Homo sapiens: one gene and its partners. The protein of the gene in region 1 binds, or shares a complex with, the protein of each later gene. Each region holds a gene or a part of one and is shown on either strand. Other genes may lie near its edges. The genes, in order: CHTOP, SARNP, THOC1 and THOC2.

The links.
Region 2: CHTOP (region 1) and SARNP share a complex: the UniProt entries of both Homo sapiens proteins name them as parts of the transcription/export (TREX) complex.
Region 3: CHTOP (region 1) and THOC1 share a complex: the UniProt entries of both Homo sapiens proteins name them as parts of the transcription/export (TREX) complex.
Region 4: CHTOP (region 1) and THOC2 share a complex: the UniProt entries of both Homo sapiens proteins name them as parts of the transcription/export (TREX) complex.

What each region holds. Positions count from the first base shown.
Region 1 is NC_000001.11:153,644,066-153,646,846, reverse strand, and holds the end of CHTOP (chromatin target of PRMT1 protein), read right to left. Parts: intron 1,784-2,781; coding exon 1,578-1,783; 3' UTR 541-1,577; downstream 1-540. UniProt on the Homo sapiens protein: Plays an important role in the ligand-dependent activation of estrogen receptor target genes. May play a role in the silencing of fetal globin genes.
Region 2 is NC_000012.12:55,758,716-55,765,755, forward strand, and holds part of SARNP (SAP domain-containing ribonucleoprotein), read right to left. Parts: intron 1,926-7,040; coding exon 1,836-1,925; intron 1-1,835. UniProt on the Homo sapiens protein: Binds both single-stranded and double-stranded DNA with higher affinity for the single-stranded form. Specifically binds to scaffold/matrix attachment region DNA. Also binds single-stranded RNA. Enhances RNA unwinding activity of DDX39A.
Region 3 is NC_000018.10:244,037-251,076, forward strand, and holds part of THOC1 (THO complex subunit 1), read right to left. Parts: intron 3,922-7,040; coding exon 3,813-3,921; intron 2,420-3,812; coding exon 2,288-2,419; intron 1,797-2,287; coding exon of another isoform or gene 1,791-1,796; exon of another isoform or gene 266-1,790; intron 1-265. UniProt on the Homo sapiens protein: Component of the THO subcomplex of the TREX complex which is thought to couple mRNA transcription, processing and nuclear export, and which specifically associates with spliced mRNA and not with unspliced pre-mRNA.
Region 4 is NC_000023.11:123,625,017-123,632,056, reverse strand, and holds part of THOC2 (THO complex subunit 2), read left to right. Parts: intron 1-204; coding exon 205-369; intron 370-4,088; coding exon 4,089-4,364; intron 4,365-5,394; coding exon 5,395-5,536; intron 5,537-5,987; coding exon 5,988-6,145; intron 6,146-7,040. UniProt on the Homo sapiens protein: Component of the THO subcomplex of the TREX complex which is thought to couple mRNA transcription, processing and nuclear export, and which specifically associates with spliced mRNA and not with unspliced pre-mRNA.

The DNA of each region.
Region 1 (2,781 bases):
TGTGGGCGTGGTGTTATTTCTGCAGAGCTCAGAGGAAGTCAAATTCTTCACTTTCTGCTCAAAGCCACAGGCTCTCCAGAATTTTAACACAAGTAAGAAGAAAGAAACTCTCAACCATACAAGGGGTATATCAAGACATCATTAAAGTGGCTGGGTGCAGTGGGTCACGCCTGTAATCCCTGCACTTTGGGAGGCTGAAAGTGGGTCACGCCTGTAATCCCTGCATTTTGGGAGGCTGAAGCGGGTGGATCACCAAGTCAAGAGATCAAGACCATCCTGGCCAACATGGTGAAACCCCATCTCTACTAAAAATACAAAAATTAGCTGGGTGTGGTGGCACATGTCTGTAGTCACAGCCACCCGGGAGGCTGAGGCAGGAGAATCGCTTGAACCAGAGAGTTGGAGGTTGCAGAGCCAAGATCGCGCCACTGCACTCCAGCCTGGTGACAGGAGCGAGACTCGGTCACAAGAAAAAAAAAAAAAAACATCATTAAAGTAGCCATGGCATTTTGAGGCACCTCAAATAAAGAGAGTCCTGGGTGGATTTAAGCGAACAGTTTGTTATAATGAACCAGAAATACAAGATTCCACTGAAACTGAACAGTTGACAGAATATGGTTGAACTTAAACCTTCAAGGGAAACAAGGGCAAAACAAAGCTAATGAGTGGAAAAGTCCAAGATTAGTTTGGGATAAACATGAGGATATAATTGCATTTTAGCATGGCTATCTTCTGACCTCTTCCAGCAGTTCGTCTGCCATCATTCTCCCTTCTGACACACCTACCAAATCAAATGGCTTCTGATCCTCTATATTGCAGTATAAACCAACCCTATAGTACCCCTCTGGTCATGATACAAACCCAGAAGGAAAGTCTGTAAATCTCATACAAAGGTAGAAAGTGCAATTCAACCCAACACGCTGGTTATGGTATATGTGCTGTCAATGTACATGGTAGCAACTTGAATCAAACCAGAGCTGCTACCACATGTAAGCAACCTCTTATGCTGCCCTGTAGTGATGTCAATGTTCTCAGTTTACTAAATTATCAATGTGGAAGAACGCATTTTTGAGCTCCAGACCTTCTAAACATTTTAAACAGGCTATCGAAGAGGATGTAACAGAACCCTATTTCAGAAACCTAAGGATCAGGGAGGAAGGAACACTGACCGGTTTTTCTGGGATGTTTCTGTGGGGGCAACAGGGATGAACAAAAGAAATGTTAGCATGTCAGAGCATATGACAAGTGAGGGGAGACAGAGGTAGGAAGAGGGTGTTCTAGCCACAAGGCTAATGCATTTGTGTTCAAAGAGAAGTCTGGGCAAAGGAGGGGAAACCCCCCCTCCCCCCTAAAAAAACAAAAACAAAAAACCAAATCAAAGGACAAAAGGGTTTCATACAACACAGTATCAAAAAGTAAAAGGAACACACTAAATGCACAAGCTGGTGGCAAGTAAGTCCACAGCCTATTGTGATAGGTCCATCCAGCATCAATCAGATTTCTTCTCATCTGTTATCTCAAGGTTATTTACAGATGTGTTGACTAACAAGAGTCTCTCATGGGAGGATGGGCAGGCTTCAATCATTGGTTTCGGGATCTGTCTGCGCCATGTAGGCATCCAACTCAGCATCCAGGTGTCCTTTTGTTTTCGACATATATGCATCCAATTGGTTGTCCAGCTGCTCCTTGGTCAATACAGGGCGAGCAAGGGCACCTCTCCCTCGTCCACGGCCTCGGCCTCGGCCTCCAAAGCCCCCTCTTCCCCGACCTATCATACCCCGACCTGGCCCAAAGGGGAAAAAAAAAAAAAAAGAGACAGTTACAAGTAAGTTTAATAGGTGCTGTAGTAAATGCCCCTTAGAGCAGTGGGGCCTAGCTGAGAAAAGCTGAAGGGCAGGGCAAAGAGGAGAAATCTGGAAAAAAAGGAAACACAATGGGTAGAAAGCAACACATGGAAAGCACACATAATGAATCCTCTATCACATGATCATCTCTAAATGCTATTTTAACAAATTTTATTCTATCAATAAAGGAAAATAATTAACTGGCAACTATAATTTTAAAAAACCTTAATCAATCCTAAGATAAAATTACCTAACATTTGAGATTCACTAAGTTCATAATTAAAATACATGACAGATAACCCCATTTGGTAAGATAGGGAGGTGGTAACAAGAGCACAGAGCATCAGGGGTGTGAAGACAAGACAGTTTTCAAATTAAGTTTATTGGAGACCCTTCTGGAAAGTCATCTCACCTGTCCTTAAACTTATCAAGTCTAATGAGCTAGCTGACCTCATGTGTCAGGAGACTGAGTTTTTCTGACACAGGAACAATGTAGGGGAGATTTGAAAAAATATTTTGAGTTGTCCTAGCTATTTCTACCTTTAATTCTAGTTACCTTATGACAACTGACAATTGTGGTTATCTGAGAAGCAGTGTGAATTCAGTTAACAAAACAAACTCAGCTTTTTGAAAAGCTATTTTAGTCTCTCCCACCCTCGTGATGTCTCTCAGGATCCAAGTCAAGATAATTTGGAAACATGTTATTTCATCCTGAAACCCAAACTAGCTTGCACTTCACTCAGTAAGTATCATATAATGGGAGAGAAGAAAACAAGCCCTTGGTTATCAACTTTTCTTTCCTAACAGTTATTATTCCTTGGCAACTTCAAGGTCATAAGTTATGGAAGACCCAAGACACCTTTTAAGAGAACCAAAGCAAATATACACAGGGGCTTCAATAGTGTTTTTTTTCTGGACAGGTGTTGGGAGTTTTCCA
Region 2 (7,040 bases), on another chromosome or scaffold:
GATATGGCTGTTTAAGGCCTTCCACCATGATTGTAAGCTTCCTGAGGCCTCCCCAGAAGCCAAGCAGATGCCAGCACCATGCTTCCCATAAAGCCTGCAGAAATGTAAGCCAATTAAGCCTCTTTTCTTCATAAGTTACCTAGTCTCATGTATTTCTCCTTTACAGCAATGCAAGAACAGCCTAATATACTTTTTTTTTTTTTTTTTTTGAGACAGTCTTGCTCTGTTGCCCAGGCTGGAGTACAGGGGTGCCATCTGGGCTCACTACAACCTCCACCTCAGCCTCTGGAGTAGCTGGGACTACAGGCACATGCCACCACACTCAGCTAATTTATTTTAAACTTTTAGTAGAGATGAGGTCTCACTATGTTGCCCAGGCTAGTCTCCAACTCCTGACCTCAAGTGATCCTCCCACACTGCTCTCCTAAAGTGCTGGGATTCTTTCATTTTGAGAAACTATCTGTAAACAAAGTGACAAGAACAGGAAGTCTCATTTGAGTCCACTGTCCTTTTCCAGAAATGAGTTAGGCACAACCAGTTCTTATTAAATATTTTAAAACTATCCCTTTTTATACAGAATCGTTTCACTCTTTAAATAAAACTTTGAGGTAGGTTTTATTATCTCCACTTCCTAGATGATGAAACCTGAGGCTCAGGAAGTACTGTAACTTATTAATACTAAGTGGCAAAGCCTTTTTCTTTTCTTTTTTTTTTTTTTGAGAGCAAGTCTCACTCTGTAGCCCATGTTGGAGTGGCGTGATCTTGGCTCACCGCAACCTCTGCCTCCCGGTTTCAAGAGATTCTCATGCCTCGGTCTCCAGAGTAGCTGGGATTACAGGCACATGCCACTGCACCTGGCTAATTTTTTTAAATAAGTAAATAAATAAATAAATAAATGTATTTTTAGTAGAGATGGGGTTTCACCATGTTGGCCAGGCTGATCTTGAACTCTCGACCTCAGGTAATCTGCCTGCCTCAGCCTCCCAAAGTGCTAGGATTATAGGCGTAAGCCACCATGCCCGGCCGCCTTTTTCTTTTTTGAGACAGGGTCTCACTCTATTGCCCAGGCTGGAGTACAGTGGCGCCATCCAGGTTCACTGCAGCCTTGACCTCCTGGGCTTAAGTGATCCTCCCATCTCAGCCTCCTGAGTAGCTGGGACTATAGGTGTGTGCCACCACGCCTAGCTAATTTTTGTATTTTTAGTAGAGACAGGGTTTCTCCATGTTGCCCAGGCTGGTCTCAAACTCCTGGGCTCAAGAGATCTGCCTGCCTCAGCCTCCCAAAGTGCTAAGATTACAGGCATGAGCCACCACACCCAGCCCAGAGCCAATTTTAGAATCCAAGCCTACCTGATTCCAAACGTTATACTCTTTGCCACTAGTCTAACAGACTCTAACACTGAATTAAGTATATTGATGGAATTCAGTGTTGCCACTTCACCCAGAAAAAAAGTTATCAAGAAAAAAGCAAAATATTTGGACACTTAAGAAGTAGGTGGGTGGCCAGACATAGTGGCTCATGCCTATAATAATCCCAGCAATTTGGGAGCTGAGTGCAGAGGATCGCTTGAGCCCAGGAGTTTGAGACCAGCCTGAGCAACAGAATGAGACCCCATCTCTACTTAAATAAATAAATAATTAAGAAGTAGGTGGGAAAACAGTGTTTCTCTACTCAGTTTATTCACTCTCACTTCCTGGGCAACAGAGACCCCAACTCGACTTAAATAAGTAAATAAATAAATAAATAAATAGGTGGGGAAACAATATTTCTCCATTCAGTTTATTCACTCTAATTTCCCTTCAAGGTCTATGAAGCGTTCCAGGTATATTTTTACCTCTGTATCCTCTGTGGTTCCAGTTCCAGCTGAACTTGTGACAATCCCAAATCGCTCCTTCCTCTTTTTCAGTTTCTCATCATCTTCAGACTGTTCAAGGACAAAGGAAAGAGTTGAAACAAACTAGCCTCCATTCACCAAGTAAATGGGAATGAAATGATAACTTATTGGTCACAAGGTGCTAACCAACCCTGTGCCAAGAACTAAGGATCACATAAAGAGATAAGATACATAAGAAACTGAATAAGCTAGCATATACTATGTTGTACCTAGAATGACTAAAAACTTAATTTTAGGCAGGGCCTCAATACTCATAAGACAAGTAGGGTAAAGAAACAGTAAGAGGCCGGGCACGGTGACTCACACCTGTAATCCTAGCACTTTGGGAGGCTGAGGCGGGTGGATCAGGCAGTCAGGAGTTCAACACCAGCCTGGCCAAGATGATGAAACCCCATTTCGACTAAAAATACAAAAAAATTAGCTGGGTGTGGTGGCGGGCGCCTGTAATCCCAGCTACTAGGGAGGCTGAGGCAGAGAACTGCTTGAACCTGGGAGGCAGAAGTTGCACTGAGCTGAGATTGCACCACTGCACTCCAGCCTGGGTGACAGAGTGAGACTCTGTCTCAAAAAAAAAAATAATAAATAAAATAAACAGTAAGAAACACCCATAAAACAAATTTCTATGCTCAAGCAATTCTGGCAGTTGAGGGATATGGAAAACTGAGGTTTCACTGAATAACACCCAAAGTTACACCTAGTAACACCTAGTTAGAAGGTACCCAAACTACTTGTTGAACAATGCTTACACGTTACCAAGGAAAGAAAGGGGAAGAGGGCCAGAGTGGTATTTCTGAAAAACTTATTTGCTTGAAACACCCAGCAAAGCCATAGAAGGCTCTGAATAGTTTGAAATGATTCTTAAAACAGGTGAATCAAGGTGACAGCCATGGTCAACTCTCTAAGAGAAATGCTGTGGACATTTTCCAAGCATCTGTGAAACTCATGATGTCTGCCTGGGAATGAGAGAATATTTCAGTTTACCATGAGTTGGAGCTCGCCATTATTCTAGGTGTTTTGTATCATTCATGTCCAACACTGCTCAGTATAAGAGTCTATATATTTTCCTATCAGAACCTAAACCCTACCATTTTATTTAGCCCACTTTAACAGTTATTTTCTCTTTCTCCACCTCCCCCTCACATCTTATCACCAGTCATCAGAAGCTCAGCCTCAGGATTAGAAAACATCTGAAATCAGGTAGGCTCCTCGGGTGTCTTTCCCCCAGGAAGGACTTTCTAAAATTTGGCACATATATAAAAAGATCTCATTCTCTCATAATCTCAAGAGACCCTCTACTCCCTAGAGATGTACCCATCCTCACTAAAGAGCAGGACAGTTTCTTTGACTTTATTTACGTTGTTAACCCAACAGAAGGACAGATAAGCAAGAGTTCAAACAAGGGCACAGTGGCTCACACCTGTAATTCCAGCACTTTGGGAGGCCAAGGCAAGCAGATCACTTGAGGTCAGGAGTTGGAGACCAGCCTGGCCAACATGGTGAAACCCATCTTTACTAAACATACAAAAATTGGCCAAGCATGGCCGCAGGTGCCTGTAATCCCAGCTACTTGGGAGGCTGAGGCAGGAAAATAGCTTGAACCCAGGAGGCGGAGGTTACAGTGAGCTGAGATCATGCCATTGCAGTCCAGCCTGGGTAGACAGAGTGGGACTCCGTCTCCAAAGAGTTCAAACAAACTTTTTTTTTTTTTTTTTTGAGACAGAGTCTTACTTCGTTACCCAGGCTGGAGTGCAGTGGCACAATCTCAGCTCACTGCAACCTGTGCCTCCCAAGTAGCTGGACTACAGGCATGTGCCACCATGCCCGGCCAATTTTGTATTTTTAGTAGAGACGGGGTTTCTCCATGTTGGTCAGGCTGGTCTCGAACTCCCAACCTCAGGTGATCCGCCCACCTTGGCCTCCCAAAGTGCTGGGATTACAGGTGTGAGCCACTGCGCCTGGCCTCAAACAAACTTTTAAAGAATGTCTGTGTGGTGCTTCTGAGCTGGATTTGTTTTTAAATCCCAAGGAAATTATAGTCCTACAGTCTATAGGCAGGCTGTGTCTCTGGGTGTCCCAAAACTACAAGGTCAAAAGCAAAGGTAACAAAAAGACCTACAGAAATATACAGCAATTTTTCAATGCCTCTACTCTCAACCCCAACCAAGGAGTTGTCTTTGTCCCTGTGGCCACAGCAGCCACCTGTACAAATCAAAAGCAGGGCAGCTATCCAGCTTTCTGTGCTCAATTTAACTAGTCCACCTGTCTGAACACAGCAGGCAGGAGTACTGTCTTGGTCTTTAACTCTTTCAGCTTGAGAAAGATGTTCATTTTCTCCCTTTTGCTGCACCTGCTTTCTAGTGAGTAGGAAGAGACCTAAGAAAGAATGATGGTTATGAAGCAATTAAGAATCCTATACAAGTTATCATTTAATCACAGTTTATTACTAGAATAAACTACTGCCTACACAGTTTTTCTGCCTTTCTCATTATGACCACCAGCAAATCCATAGCGGGTACCTCATTAATGTACTCTGAACTATTGTAAAAACATTAAGCCAGGTTCAAAGAAAAACATAAGTATTCTTGTCCTTAATAATAATAAATTAAAATAATAACATTATAGCCATGAACATCTGAGTGCTTAGTATATGCCAGGTACTGTGTGCAGTTCTTTACACATGCAATATCTCATTTACTACTTTTTTTTTTTTTTTTCCCCAGAGACAGAGTCTCGCTCTGTCGCCCAGGCTGGAGTGCAGTGGTGCCATCTTGGCTCAATGCAGTCTCCACCTTCCAGGTTCAAGGGATTCTCCCGCCTCAGCCTCCTGAGTAGCTGGGACTACATGCGCACGCCACCACACCTAATTTTTGTATTTTTAGTAGAGATGGGGTTTCGCCACGTTAGCCAAACTGGTCTCGAACTCCTGACCTCAGGTGATCCGCCCACTTCGCCTTCCAAAGTGTTGGGATTACAGGCGTGAGCCACTGCATCCAGGCTCATTTACTACTTTATTTTAATTTTTGCAGAGAGGGGGATCTCGCTATGTTTCCCAGGCTAGTCTTGAACTCCTGGGCTCAATCAATCCTCTTGCCTCAGCCTCCCAAAGTGCTGGGATTACAGGTGTGAGCCACTGTACCTGGCATCATTTACTTCTTATAATAATCCTATGGAGTAGGCACAGCAATTAAATTCATTTCATAGATAGGAAAATTTAGTCTTGGAGAGATTAAGTGACTCACCCAAAATTTCACAAATAATACGAGGATTGGAATCCAGGACATTTTACTCAGGAATCCACTTTCTTAGCCTTACCACCTCCTCAAGGTATCTCACTTAAGTATTTCTTTGGAAGAACAGTAGGACAATTAAGTGCTTAACTCCCAAGGAGGAAGGATCACTAGAACCCTTAGCTAAAAAAACTTGTAAATTTTAATCACATCACTCAAATAATCAGGTCAAGAATACTAGGACCCCTTCTTCTAACGTACCATATACCTACAATTTATAAGTAACAGTATCTAGGAAAAGGGCTCCAGTTAGTAATCTTGTACTAATGTTTTTCTCAGCTAAATCTGGTTCTAATTTTGCTTAATTGGCTATTCCATTTGTTGAGATGTAATAAAAGAATAAGGGGCTGGGAGCAGTGGCTCACATCTGTAATCCCACCACTTTGAGAAAATCCCAGGAAGGATCTTCTAAAATCCTGAGGTCGGGAGTTCGAGACCAGCCTGACCAACATGGAGAAACCCCGCCTCTACTAAAAATACAAAATTAGCTGGGCGTGGTGGCGCATGCCTGTAATCCCAGCTACTTGGGAGGCTGAGGCAGGAGAAGCGCTTGAACCCGGGAGGTGGAGGTTGCGGTGAGCCGAGATCTCGCCATTGCACTCCAGCCTGGGCAACAAGAGCGAAACTCCATTTCAAAAAAAAAAAAAAAAAGAATAAGGCTGGGCGCAGTGGCTCACACCGGTAATCCCAGCACTTTGGGAGGCCGAGGCAGGCAAATCACAAGGTCAAGATATAGAGACTATCCTGGCCAACATGGTGAAACCCCATCTCTATTAAAAAAAATACAAAAATTAGCTGGGTGTGGTGGCGAGTAGTAGTCCCTACTCGGGAAGCTGAGGCAGGAGAATCACTTGAACCCGAGAGGCGGAGGTTGCAGGGAGCCAAGATCACGCCACTGCACTCCAGCCTGGCAACAGAGCCAGACTCTGTCTCACAAAAAAAAAAAAAAAAAAAAAGGAAGGTTTCCAACAAACATTAAGTCCCACCACATTTTTTACTAACAAAGTCAAGGGGGAAAGTTTCCTTGATCTACTACCACTAAGATAAAGTGAATACGGAATATAAATGGGGATTTCAAGTTGAGAACCTCTAGAATGTTCTAGTTGATATATCTTCACTAAGTCTCCCGGCCAAGTAGGAAACAGTTTTCAGGAAAATAAATGGAGCCTCTCTTCTTGCGGAGAGGCAAGACTAGACCACTATCTTGTTAAACTACCATTATAAACTTTTTTCCATTCAATTTAGCACTAGCAGTACTTCAGCAAGTTCAAATCACAGAGGAGATAAGACTTTTGAAACCCAGACATTATATAAGCACAAACCCTGAGGCCAAGCCCTCCCCCAACGTATGTCCACTTGGAATGTGCGGGCCAGTTTTGCTTCTCCTGGTTCTTTATTTGGCTATATCCTCAAATGGGGAGTCTGATTTCCCCATTAGCCACCTGCCTCGCTGCCCACGTTTTTTAGAGACAGGGCCTCACTCTGTTGCCATGCTGTCGTGCAGTAGCATGATCATGGCTCACTGTAATGTTGAATCCCTGGGCTCAAGTAATCCTCCAACCTTAGCCTCCTCAGTAGCTAAGAACTAAAGGTATGTGCCATGCCTGGCTAATTTTTTTTTTTTTTTAATAGAGACAGGGTCTTGCTATGTTGCCTAGACTGGTTTCAAACTCCCGGACTCAAGCAATCCTTTCACCTCGCCTCCCAAAGTGCTGGGATTACAGGCATGAGCCACCACACCCAGCCTAGCTTCCCTTTTAAACAAGATCTTTGGTGCCTCTTCAGGAGATACAGGCAGAGCATCTGTTCTAAACCCATTAGGGGTTCCAGGGGAAAACAACAACAACAATACATCGTT
Region 3 (7,040 bases), on another chromosome or scaffold:
TTTTCTTTTGGTGGTTACCCTTTTAATATACATGAAAAGGAATATTCAGTATTCCTTTCCTACTCCTGAAGATTACAAGGACTGCCATAATTTTAAATTACTCACTAAACATCTCTGCTTTCCCCTTCCATATTATTACTGTCATCTAGTTAAGTTCCACGTTAATAAAATTTTTTAATTAAAAAAATTTTAAATCATTCATGACTTTTTTGTGTTTATAGTCAATAGTAAATTTACTGTCATATTTTTCAATTTTTGTGCTCACCGTTGCCTTCTGTATCCCACTCCATTCTTATGGGTTCAATTTCCTTCCTCCTGAAGAACATCCTTGAGTAGTTTTTTTCAAAATGAGGGTCACTGAGTGGTAAGTTATCCTGGTCTTTAAATAAAAATGTCTTTCTTTCATCGACAGTCTTGAGTATATTTAACTCGGTATAAAATTCTAGATTGAATGTCATTTTTCTTTCAGCACTTTAATATTTCTCTACTGTCTTCTGGTATTAATGGTTGATATGTTAGAAATCTGCTAACAGTCAAACTGCTGTGCCTTCCCAGTATATTTGTCTTTCTTATCCCTTAGTGGCTTTTAGGTTTTCTCTGAATGCCCACAGTTATGGCATGATGTAATGAAGAGTAGATTTATCTTTCTTTATCCTGCTTGGCAGTTGTGACACACTTTTAAGCTGAGGATTTGAGATTTCCTTCAATTCTTTGCAATCCAGTTTCTCTACCATTCCCTCCATTTTCTTCTTTGGAAATCCTACTAGACAGATGTTGGAAATTCCCAATCTATTCACCATGGCTTTTAACTGCTCTTCCACTTAAAAAAAAAAAATCTGTCTGTGCTGCTTGCTGGATGAAGTTCTCATCACCTTCTTCAGTTCACTAGTTCTTTGTTCATCTATGTCCAGTGTATAGTTTAATTCTGTGTGCTGAGTTTTGGTTTCAATTATTGTATTTTTCATTCCCAAGACTCCCGATTAGTTGTATCGACTGTCCTACTTCATTTCAGCCTGCTTTTGTTTCATGATTTCTTGTTCCTTTTCAATGGATGTTATCTCATCGATTATCTTTTTGAGTATCCAAAACATACATAAAGTCTTGGTCAGGCTATATATTTCATCTGGAATAAATATATATATATATCCCAATAGTTGATTTTGCTGGTGATCCTTCTTAGCATTAGATTTATGGATTTTGGAATTTTAATTTATCAGAGTTTTGAACAGGAGCCTTTTCTTTTGGGATGTTTGTTTACTTCCTTTCCCCTCCCTCTCTGTGTACATCCTTCCCTGTCTAGCAGTTTTGCATCTGCTTCTACCAGGGCCCCTGAGTCCAAAAGTCTAGAAGAAGTCTTATGATGACTTCTTGGAGCAGCTGTTTCATAAGTATACTGAGCATATCACATATCTGGTCACTGAGCAAGCAGATGGACACAAAGCTGTCTTTGTTATCCCTAGGCTCACAACTTCCTATAAAACCATAGCCCTTGGCAGAAGACTGGCAATATTTTTTCTTAGTTTCTTCCCAAAACTGGATAAAAGTTCCACCCTAGTCCTTGGCTTCAAGAAGTGAATCTGGCTCTGGCCCCTTGTCCCACATGGTGCACATTTAGTCTCTGTTACTTGTAGCCAAATTCCTGGACACCACCACCTGCCTTGGATAGAGAGTCCAGCAGGCCCAGGCTGCAGTTTTGCTCACTACTTGGCATTTCTGGTCCATGAAGATATTTATCTTGTTTCTGGAAGCCCAGCCTTGTCTCTTTTGTTTTCTCGTTTATATTTTACCCGTCATTGCTATGTGTTTGGAGCAAAGGGAGTGAGTCGAAACATAAACTCAATGTGCCATCTTGACTAGAAACTTTACATAATCTTGTAGCATTATATTTGAATAAAATTTACTTTTTAAAATGTATAAATAAGATTAACAAGGAACTTTTAAACCCCTTACTTGCACCTAAATAATAATTATGAAATATTTTCATATACAAATTAAATCCTAACTTGACATTTAAAATATATAGACATGAAAGTAATTAAACTGCATTTATTCCAAAATTAGTTTACAAAACAGACTTAATGTAGAACTACTTTCACCTTTGAAACCAAATTAGTCCTACTTCTGAAAGGAAGAAATGGGACTTTCAAACTAACATTAATCAATCAGCTTTAACCCAAAGTAAAATAAGAAACATTTCTATTCAGTTTAACTTAGAAAGGCTGTCAGCTAAACGGAAATAAAACAAGACCATTTCTTATTATGCTTAATGAAAAAGAAAAACTTATACCTTTTCACTTGTTAAAAATTTTGCAAAATATACATGTTCTCCTCCTGTTTTCAATTCTTCCATCTTTTTTCTTGAGGCCTGAGTATCATCTAATTTATAACTCTTAAAAACAGCTAAAACTTCTTCAGAATACTGCAAAATAAAAATATTAGTTTTATTCGACATTGTTACCCAAATTTGTTTAGTGCTTTTCTGCATCAAAATGCCTAGAATTTACTCCCAGTCAATCATGTATGTAGACTGTATATTGCAAGGCACACTAACAATACAAATTATGATAGCAGAATGGGAGTTAAAACTATTTTGTATGATATTTCACTTGTTGCAAAAGTAGGTACAAGCTCCCTACTCCTAAAGAAATATAATTTCTTGGCCAGTGGTGGTGGCTCACGCCTGTAATCCCAGCACTTCGGGAGGCGGAGGGGGGCGGGTAACTTGAGATCAGGAGTTTGAGACCAGCCTGGCCAACATGGTGAAACCCCGTCTCGACTAAAAATACAAAAATTAGCCAGGTGTGGTGGCGGGCACCTGTAGTCCCAGCTACTCAGGAGACTGAGGCTGAAGAATCCCTTGAACCTGGGAGGCTCCGTCTCAAAAAAAAAAAAAAAAAAAACGAAGAAATATGATTTAAGAAGTCTGTGTAAGGGACAAATAGATTAGGGAACATTTTTAAGAGTGTACAGAAATTTACCAGTGAAATTGTTTAACCACCTGTGGAAACTCTTACGCATTTCTTGTGCTAAAAACTGAGCAAATAAATTCCACCAAATTCTGTCCAGTTAGAAGACAATTCCAGATTATTTCTCACTAACCACTTAATCTGAATTTGGATGGTGCTGCCCCCACAAAAAATTGCATATAAAACAAAAACTATTAAAAATAACATAACACACACCATGCTATTCTGAGAACTACCTATTTATCTTAGATTTTAATTATGACAAAAAAGGACAACTGATCTTTAAGTAGCCAAGAAAAATATAACAAATTCTTCTAAAACAGGATTGGCAAACTTTTTCTGTAAAGGACCAGAGAGTAAGTATTTCAGGCTTTGTGGCCTTTATAATCTCAGTTGCAACTACTCAGCTGTGCCATTATAGTGCAAAAACAGCCACAGGTAAGTGGATGGTCATGGTACTATTCCAATAAACCTTTGTTTATAAGCAGTAGGTTAGATCTGGCCCAGAGCCATGACTTGAGGACTTCTGTTTCAACAAGATAGCTAAAATAATTTTGTACAAAGATAGAATATATTCTGCAAAATATCAATTTATGTTAACAACACTCATTATATTCAAAAAAAGCAAGGCTGTAATGACGAACTTTTAAATATCCGATTCTTATATACTACTTCACAATATTAGTGGTTTAAATATTAATTTATAATTTCACTTGTTATGAAATTGGTATAAAAATGTAAGAGGCAGAATTACATAGTGAAAAGTATGTTAGACAAGATTAAGTTTTAGCTCTATCACTGTCTATAAAATACTGGGCTTCTGATAGTCTGTCAATGGCAACTTACCTTGAGAAAAGTTTTCCATGAAATCTTCTCATAGCATTGCACAGGGTTCCTGAAGTAATCCTGAAGTGACCAGAATTTTCGATACAGGTTGTAATCAATTGGAATAGAGCTAATAAAATAAACGTTATATTAAATAAATCATTCAAATTCTTTTACAAATATCTAAATATTCTTAACTTAGCTTTGGTCACAAACCGTTTTCAGAAGCTAATGAAAGTTATCAGAAAAGTACACATTCACAAATGCTTATATAAACTTTTACAAATCATTTTAGGGAACTCATAGACCCCAATAGACTCTTTATCTACACTGGTGGAGCCCCTGAATTTTGGAAGGACACATGGTTATTCAGAATTAAAGATTATGTTTCCCAACCAATCTTGCTGCTCGCATGGTCATGTGATTAAATTCTGGCCAATCAGTTGAGAGCGGAAGTCATATGTGCAACTTTTGGGCCATATTTTATCACTGGCCTTTTCCTCTTCCTGCTGGCTAGAATGCAGATGTGAGCGTGAGCCACCTTGCACTACAGGAAAAAGGGCAAACACCAAGATGATGGAAGAAGAAGGTAGAAGAAGCCTGGGTCTAGGCAATCTCACCGAGCAGTGCTCCCTTACCAGCCTTGGACTGCCTGCTTCTAGACTTCGATATGAGGGGGAAAAATCAACTTTTATGTTGTTTAAACCAATGTTAATCTGAATCTATGTTAAAAGTCACAGGTATCATATCCTAACTAAAAATATTATATCCTAAGAAGCACCAGTATGAGAAAAACATATATGGTACATATCAAGTTAGCATCACAAAAATAAGCCCTTTATCTAGTAACTTTATTATGGCACTACTAATTCAACTTCTAATCTTGATATGTCACAAATCTACAGTGTCAATACATATTCTTTTAATTTAAATTTTTTTTTTTAAAGGAGTCTCACTCTGTTGCCCAGACTGGAGGGCAGTGGTGCGATCTCAGCTCACTGCAAGCTCCGCCTCCCGGGTTCAAGCGATTCTCCTGCCTCAGCCTCCTGAGTAGCTGGGACTACAGGCACCCGCCACCATGCCCGGCTAATTTTTTGTATTTTTAGTAGAGACAGCATTTCACCGTGTTATCCAGGATGGTCTCGAGTTCCTGACTTCATGATCTGCCCACCTCAGCCTCCCAAAGTGCTGGGATTACAGGCGTGTACCACTGCACCCGGCCTATTCTTTTAATTTTTAAAACAGCTAATATCTGATAAACGGCTAGTATCTGAAGCACGTGAAAATCAACAGTGAAGAATACTGACTTTTAACTAACAAAAATCTAAATCTAGTTCTTGCCAAAGCTTTCATCATGAATTAGTAGTATCTGAAAGACTCTAATGGGCATGTTTACTTTCGCTCTTCCTAAACTTTTCCCTAGTAACAACTCTGAAAGTAGGAAAACAATGATGTACACATTAACTTCTCTCTATAATTAAAGCAGCTTCACTGATTTACAACAGTAAGATTATACCTCTGGGTTTTCTATGAATTGGGTTTTTAAAAAAAGCCACAGGCTGGGCACGGTGGCTCACACCTGTAATCCCAACACTTTGGGAGGCTGAGGCGGGCGGATCACGAGGTCAGTTCAAGACCAGCCTGACCAACATACTGAAACCCCATCTCTACTAAAAGTACAAAAATTACCCAGGCATTGTGGTGCGTGCTTGTAGTCCCAGCTACTCAGGAGGCTGAGGCAGGAGAATCGCTTGAGCCCAGGAGGCAGAGCTTGCAGTGAGCCGAGATCACAGCACTGCACTCCAGCCTGGGTGACAGAGCGAGACTCCGTCTCAAAAAAGAAAAAAAAAAAAGCCGCAAAAAGAACATTCCCTAAAACGTTAAAGTAAATAGAGAAAAGAAATAGCACTATATAAATTATTTACATTCATGAAAGAACAAGAACCAATATTTGTATAGTTCCATACATTTGATAAAGAATGTTTCTGAAGTGCATGTGCACACACACACTGAGTAACAAAATGTTACTCAGTTACAACATGTAAGATTGAATATAATAAATACCTCTTGAAATGTACCAGGAAAGTTTGTCTCTTAAAAATGGGGCTACCTCTAACAGAGAATGAGACTCATGCAACCATTATATGTCCCTTTTTGTCTCAATTGCTAAGAACTTCACATCTAATTTAACACTTAATACCAATCACAATATTATTCCATGTTGCTAATTACCATCTCCTACCTGTAAAAGACTTTTGATCTCTTCCCTTTTATCTTTAATTGGCTTGGTGGGTATTTGAGGTGTCTTACAGAATAAATTTTGAAGTAGTGTTAATATCTTACTGTTAGGCAGTTTTTACAGTTGAGGCATTAATATATTTTTAAAAATTTAAAGTCCCCTCTCCTAGATGCTGTCCCTTGCTCTTTTCCTTCACAGCTGAATAAAATTCTTCAAAGAGTTGTCTATACTCCATGTCACCACTTCATTACCTTCCTGTTCATTCTTCAACCCACTTGCAATTTGCCTTCCACCTTCAACACTCCACAGAAACTTTTGAATTTTCTGTTTACCCACACAAAGCAAATGTAACCAATTATTGTATTTGCAAATAATAACAAATCAGAGACCCAGTTACTATGTAAAATAGAATGTCTTGTAACTATTTTAACCAAAAAAACTCTGGAAAACTTGATATATTTTTTTAAATGTTCAGCTATTTTACAGGATGTTATACATTGAAATTTCTTAACAAAAATGTTTACTGGTGTATTTGAGCCAAATCTGAAATGGACTTCATATTGTAGGTAGATGGGTAATGAGTTCTGCTTTGTAAATTACAGTGCCTAAGACCATCTGGTGATAACAGCTGTCACAAAGTAATTCCTCACGTATTTTCTCCCTCTATTCAACATTAGTGACTGTGACAGAGGCAGCTGAGTGTTGAGTCTTATTTAAGTGATTTACAAACATAACCAATAGGGATGAATTGTCTATACAGTCTTAGGCAAAATCTAAGCAGACAAAACTGCACTGGCCAGTGTCTTTTGGGCTGTTTACACTTCAGGTGACTCATCATCTTGTAGCCTACTAACTTGCCCCAGAGCCCTTATGTTGCTCAGGCCAGACCTTAAAGCCTACTTTATTCATGTATAATGAATAAATAGGTCTCTAAAAAAAAATAATAACGATAACAAATAATAGCTACTAGACACTGAATAGACAATATTCTAAGTGCTTTACACTTACCA
Region 4 (7,040 bases), on another chromosome or scaffold:
TTGGCTAGTAAAACCTTGGATTAGTCAACCTGTCAGGGCCTTGGCATCTTTTTTTGTAATATGGTCATGTGGTTATACTTGTAGATAGTCTCTAAAGTCCTTTTAAGTTATAAAATTTGGATTCTTAATTGTTAAAATATTCCTAAAATGACTTCTTAATCACTTTGGAAAATATGTTGATTTTGTCTTATTTTTTAAATTTAGTGTCATGATACCCTGGTGCAGTTTGGTGGGTTTTTAGCATCTAATCTGAGCACAGAAGATTATATAAAGCGAGTGCCTTCAATTGATGTACTCTGTAATGAATTTCATACACCCCATGATGCAGCATTTTTCCTGTCTAGGCCAATGTATGCCCATCATATTTCGGTAAGTACAAGTGTCTTTGCTGCCGCTCAAGAACGATCCAAATTATTTCTTAACGGTTTTATCTGTAAGTACATATCACTACAGATTTTGGGGGAAGGTCTTGGCCCTAAACTAGGATCCCTTCTTTGTTTCCAATAGGGGTACGAAGCTGTGTGGTAGAGGTATACAAAAAAGGTGATGAGAAATTTGGAGTCTAATTGATCATTTAATCAAACATCTGCTGTTAGTGTTTACATATCAACTGCTACAGTCTCCCACTTCTTTCCTAACTAACTGCTACTTGATTTAATTATCACTTTGTTAGCACTATGCAGAAATTCCTGTGTTATGTATACACTCTGAAGGGAAAAAGACAATAAGGGAGTGGTGTTAGGCTGCTTCTTCCCCTTTAGATCCTCTCAATCCAGAGAATTGTTTGCCGTCTTTGTGTAACGTCTTACTGTTGTCACACCCCATGGTAGATCAGTCTCAGCTGTGCAAGAGGGTACCTGATTTCTTGACAGACAGAGGTGGGAGAATTTCTTCATCTTAGGAATTCTGACCTGCCCTGTGCTAAGTGAACACACTAATCAGCAATATGGAATCCTAGCAAACAGGAACACCTGGTTGTCTGTGGTTGGCTGAACTTTTCCAGCTCAGAAAATGGAGCAGGTCATTCAAGCTACTTTTTCTCTCTTACTTGTGTAAAATATTACCTTTGTCTTTTAAGAGATACAAAAACCTAAACAAAGAAATGGCATTTCCCTCTCAGGCTTGGAAGAAAACAGAAAACTAAATGAAAGTGGCTGTATAGCCAAGTCAGATATAAGTCTTTTATCTGTAGGCAGCATGCCACTCTCTGGAAAAGGTGTTTCCCAGCAATCTTGTGGTTGTGCTGGATGGGCATCCAAGCTGTCCTGGGGATCCTTGCTTTTGCTTCTTGAGTGAAAGCCTCTGTTGAAGAGCCTTCGTTGAGAGAGTGAAAATGTATATTAGGTGATTGCTATGTCCCCTCTATAAACTATCAGCAGGCTCTCTTGAGGATAATTCAGCCAAACGCTGCCCAGATTTTTTTTTTTTTTTTTTTTTTTTTTTTGAGATGGAGTCTCGCTCTGTCTTCCAGGCTGGAGTGCAGTGGCGCAATCTCAGCTCACTGCAACTTCCACCTCCCGGGTTCAAGCGATACTCCTATCCCAGGCTCCCAAGTAGCTGGGATTACAGGTGCCCGCCACCACACCCAGCTAATTTTTGTATTTTTAGAAGAGATGAGATTTCACCATGTTGGCCAGGCTGGTCTCAAACTCCTGACCTCAGGTGATCCGCCTGCCTTGGCCTCCCAAAGTGCTGGCATTATAGGCATGAGCCACTGTGCCTGGCCTGCTCAGATTCTTGAGACGAGATTTTTGAACAATAGTGAGAAGTACAGCAATAATTGTGGATATCAGTTCTATTCCATAAGTCTAGTTCCCCAGGCAATTTGAAATGTAGAACTGTTATGTCTCTTCATTTGACTGAAGGTGTGAACTTGAAGTGGGAGTTAAACTGACTTTAGACAAGGACATATTCATCTTGGGTAAATACGAAGTATAGCCTTCTTTTCTGACCAAGCCTATTTTTCTAACTAGATAGTGACTATGGGGTTCCTAGCAATAGAAATCACAGATTCAGACCCAGAGGACTGGGGAGATTGGAGCTATCATGTAACCCTCTCATACCTATAAACTAATTTTTAGTTTTAATTGTTGAGGTTGTGGTCCACCTTGAGACACAGGTCTGAAAGATAGGCTTTTAACCTAGTTCATATTCTAGATCTTGCCCAGAACAGGTAATTAGGCTGTCTTTTATGCAGATAATGTCAGCCCTATTTTATCCCGTTTTGTTAGAACCTTAGCAGAAGTCATTCTGCTCATCTAGATTCATATTAGTTACCTTCAATAAGACCTGTCCTCTAAATTAAAAAACACTCTCTGTTTTCCCAACTGCTATTCCCTCAGGTTTCTGATGCAATTGGGACTCCTTTTTCGTAACTAATGTTCTTTGTAGCTTTGTCACTTACGTGGTCTCAGTGGTTGTCAGCATGCTCTCTAAAATGGGGATAACAGAGCATAAATCTTCCCACTTCTAGAACAATTGTAAAATTCTAGAACAATTGTAAAATTGAGCACTCAGGAAGGAAGGCAGGTAACTGAGCTGTAAGGAGCTGAGACTCTTTTGCCTATCACAGTGTAGAACTGGAAGCAGAACCTTTGATCATCTCGTTTTGGGTTACGTGTTTAGCACAAATAGAATGATTTAAGTGATTTTCTAACGTAAGGAAGTAACTAGTTTTAGGACTTCCTTTAGGTTCGTATGAAGGGTGATACCTAACTTAAACAAAATTTTCTGGATGAGAGCTCTTTCATCCTAAAGAGACTGAAGGATGTGAAACAATAGCAGCAACTCTGTGTTATCTTCATATATATGTGTGTGTGTGTGTGTGTGTGTGTGTGTGTGTGTGTGTGTTCATGTATAATATATATGTTCATATATATGTTATCTTCATATATATAGAATATATAGAAAAAATATATATATTTTTGTGTGTGTATATATATGTATAATATATTTGGCATACACATCTCTGCAGCCCCTCCCATTGTACTAACAATTTTTTTTCCTCATACAATTAAGAATATGGCATTCCTCTGTTTTTTCCCCCAAATTAGGATAAACCAGTCAAACGAAAGAAGCTGCAGCATCAGTTCTCACATGCTTTAAACTTCAATATACCACAGCTTTTCACAGAAAAATTTATTTGGCTTAGCAGTAGAGTAACCAGTTGGTCCTGGTTTGCCTGGGATGTTCCCAGTTTTAGCACTGAAGTCTTAAATCCTCAGAAATCCCTGAATCCCCAGCAAACCCTGACAATTGGTCACCCTACTTAGCAGTCTTAAAACAAATTTCTCATAACTTTTCTTAGTGTTGATCCAGCTTTTTTTTTTTTTTTAATTTTTATTTTTTGAGACAGTCTCCTTCTGTCATCCAGTCTGGAGTGAAGGGGCATGATCTCAGCTCACTGCAACTTCTGCCTCTGGGGTTCAAGTGATCCTCTCACCTCAGCCTCCCAAGTAGCTGGGATTACAGGCCTGCGCCACCACGCCTGGCTAATTTTTTGTAGAGATGGGGTTTTGACATGCTGGCCAGGCTGGTCTCAAACTCCTGATCTCAAGTGATCTGCCCGCCTTGGTCTCTTGATCCAGCTTTTTAATTGACAAATTTTAACAGTTGGTAGGGTCTGCATGTAGTGATACTACATTCTGTCCTAGTTGGCTATTACTAGTTCCATTCTTCCTCTTTTCTCATGTTAAGACCTTCTATTTGTTCCCTTGAATATCTCAAAAGCAGGACTGGAAACCCTACATGTTCAATCCCTGATACAGCAGCAAGAGGGAGTAGGGTGGGGGAATGAAAGAGGAGAACATGCATATACCCTGTTCACTTTACTCAACAGGTCAGATTAGATAAGAACCCTCTGAGAATCTCCTAGTTGGCACACAGTACTAAAGACTGGAATAGCTTCCAGAGATGATTTATCTTAAAATAAACGTTGTTCATAAGAAACTAGAATTTCTACAACAGTTTTGAGATTGGTCATCTTTTGATTCTTTAGAAGGGAATATAGATTTTTATGCCATGAAAGTCAAAGCTATAAATTATGTTGTGTGTGTATGTATGTATGTATTTTTACTTTTTATCTACAGTCAAAGTATGATGAACTTAAAAAATCAGAAAAGGGAAGTAAACAGCAACATAAAGTTCATAAGTACATTACATCATGTGAGATGGTGATGGCGCCTGTCCATGAAGCAGTGGTCTCCTTACATGTTTCCAAAGTCTGGGATGACATCAGCCCTCAATTCTATGCTACATTCTGGTCATTGACAATGTATGACCTTGCAGTTCCACACACCAGCTATGAACGAGAAGTCAATAAACTTAAAGTCCAGATGAAAGCAATTGATGACAATCAGGAAATGGTAGGTTTTTGTTCTAGTAGTTCAAGTGCAATAACTTTATGGTATTCAATGTTACCTATATTTTGAAATTGTTTTAGCTCTGGTTCCTTAAAACAGTGATCTTGTTGCTATATAATATTTTCTTAAATGGGGTTTAATAGTTACTTCTGAGTGGGGGGCCAGGAGTTTGGTGACTAGGTGGAGGTTATGATTAATCAAAAATTATTTGAGTGTCCTTTTCTACTGACGACTATGCTAGTAACTTAAAGTGATTCATGTGACTCTAATAGCAAGAGCAGTAGTTCTCAAGAGGAGAGTTCTTTAGGAGAAGACTATTGAGAAGCCGAGTCTTGAAATGGACAGGCCTTGAAGGTAGATTAGGTTTGGAAATATGGAAGCAGATAGGGAGGTCACCATAGGGTTCCAGCAAAGACAGGAAGTAGATTGAGGTTTAGGGAGACCACTTTTACTGATTCACTTTCATGTAGTGAATGTACTTAGTGATTCATATGAATAGTTATGATGGGGCCAGATTATGTAGGCATTGGAAGTCAGGGAGAAAAGTAGACTTGGTAAAATTGAGAGCTATTTTAGATTCCTGAGCAGGATAGTAATGTAAAAAATGGTACTTAAAAAAGATTACTCATGACAGCAGTATGAAAGATGCTTTTTGACTAGCATTAGGCTAAAGACCAGCTAGGTGGCTTTTTGGGCAGTCTATTGTGAGAGCATAGACTGATGGAGGTAGTGGCAGTGTACAAGGCTTGTAAACCAGTCTTGATATAAAGGAGAGGGAAGAGTCAAAGATGACACCATGCCTGAGACTAATAGTGTCAGTGTTGCAAATGTAGCCTGTTCTGATGGTGTATGAAGATGCCATGACAGTGTTATGAGTGTGTTGAATGGAGATAAAAGTAGCACGTTCAAGTGGACCTATATTCATGTTAAAGTAGTTATAAACTATCAGCCTTTATCTCTTTAAACTTTTCAATTAAAAGAAGAAAGGTAATGTGCATATAGTTAGAAAAGTGTCTAATTGAATTCTTTGTAGCCCCCAAATAAAAAGAAAAAAGAGAAGGAGCGCTGTACTGCCCTTCAGGACAAGCTTCTTGAAGAAGAAAAGAAACAGATGGAACATGTACAGAGAGTTCTACAGAGATTGAAACTGGAAAAGGACAACTGGCTTTTAGCAAGTAAGTTGTTGGAATTGTTAGGTTCCTGATGCTGGTAAATTACAGAAAACAAAACATTATAACTTTAGAGGTGTTAAAGTGTATTATGTTTGTATTTCAACTCAGTGTTCCCTATCCCATTCTTTGGTTATTTGTTAATGCAGAATCAACTTCATGTTCACTGGAGGAACTGATATAGTTTGCTGGTGAAGTTAATTAACTTTTAACTACATATTGGCAGCTTGTCATTCAGCTTTTCTGTATAAAACATATTTCTGGAGAAATCATAGAAAAAAAGGTCCACATAGTAAAAATGATAATCATGACCAGGCATGACATTTGGTTACAAACTATAAATAGTTTGTGGTTTATAGTATTCTCTTCACTAAAGGTAATATGTTGTCATGTTTAGTGGCTTTGAGGCACTTGGGGAAGAAGTTTACCACTTAATATATTCTTCCTTTATTTTTAGAATCTACCAAAAATGAGACCATCACAAAATTTCTACAGCTGTGTATATTTCCTCGATGTATTTTTTCAGCAATTGATGCTGTTTACTGTGCTCGTTTTGTTGAATTGGTACATCAACAGAAAACTCCAAATTTTTCCACACTTCTTTGCTATGATCGAGTAAGTTTTTATTGCAACCTTTAAAAAGTTCTCACACAAAGATAGCTAACATTATAATTTATAGAGGTATTATTGTGTGTTTAGTTAAAAAGCATGAACTCAAGAACCAAGTGTCTGAACTTGAATCCTAGCTCTACTACTTTCTAGCTGTATGATCTTTGGCAAGTTATTTAACCTCTCTGTGCCTGTTTTCTTATCTGTAAAGCATAAGTACCTGCTTCATAAGATTGTTGTGAGGATTAAATGAATCACTACACATAAAAAGTACCTGATATGTAATAGGCACTCAAGGTTAAACTATTAACTAAGTATTTGAGTTTACGTGTTGTATCATAATAGGTAGAACTCTCTTCTCCATTCTTAACCTTCACTTCTCAAAAAAAAAAAAAAAGACAAAAAAGTTTACACCTTCACACACATATAAAAGCAGGGAAGCTTTTCAGTATGGTCATATGCACATTTTGCATTTAGCTTTTTTCTTATTACTACATTTTGTGGTTTAAAAACATAATGTGGCCGGGTGCGGTGGCTCATGCCTGTAATCCCAGTACTTCGGGAGGCCGAGGCGGGTGGATCACAAGGTCAGGAGATCGAGACCATCCTGGCTAACATGGTGAAACCCCGTCTCTACTAAAAAAAAAAATACAAAAAAATTAGCCGGGTGTGGTGGTGGGTGCCTGTAGTCCCAGCTACTCAGGAGGCTGAGGCAGGAGAATGGTGTGAACCTGAGACGCGGAGCTTGCAGTGAGCCTAGATCACACCACGGCCCTCCAGCCTGGGTGACAGAGTAAGACTCAGTCTCAAAACAAAACAAAACAAAACAAAAAACATAATGTATGTTCCAGTATGTCAGCTGCATATTTTTAATTTCTATCAGCATTTCCTCTGCTTACTC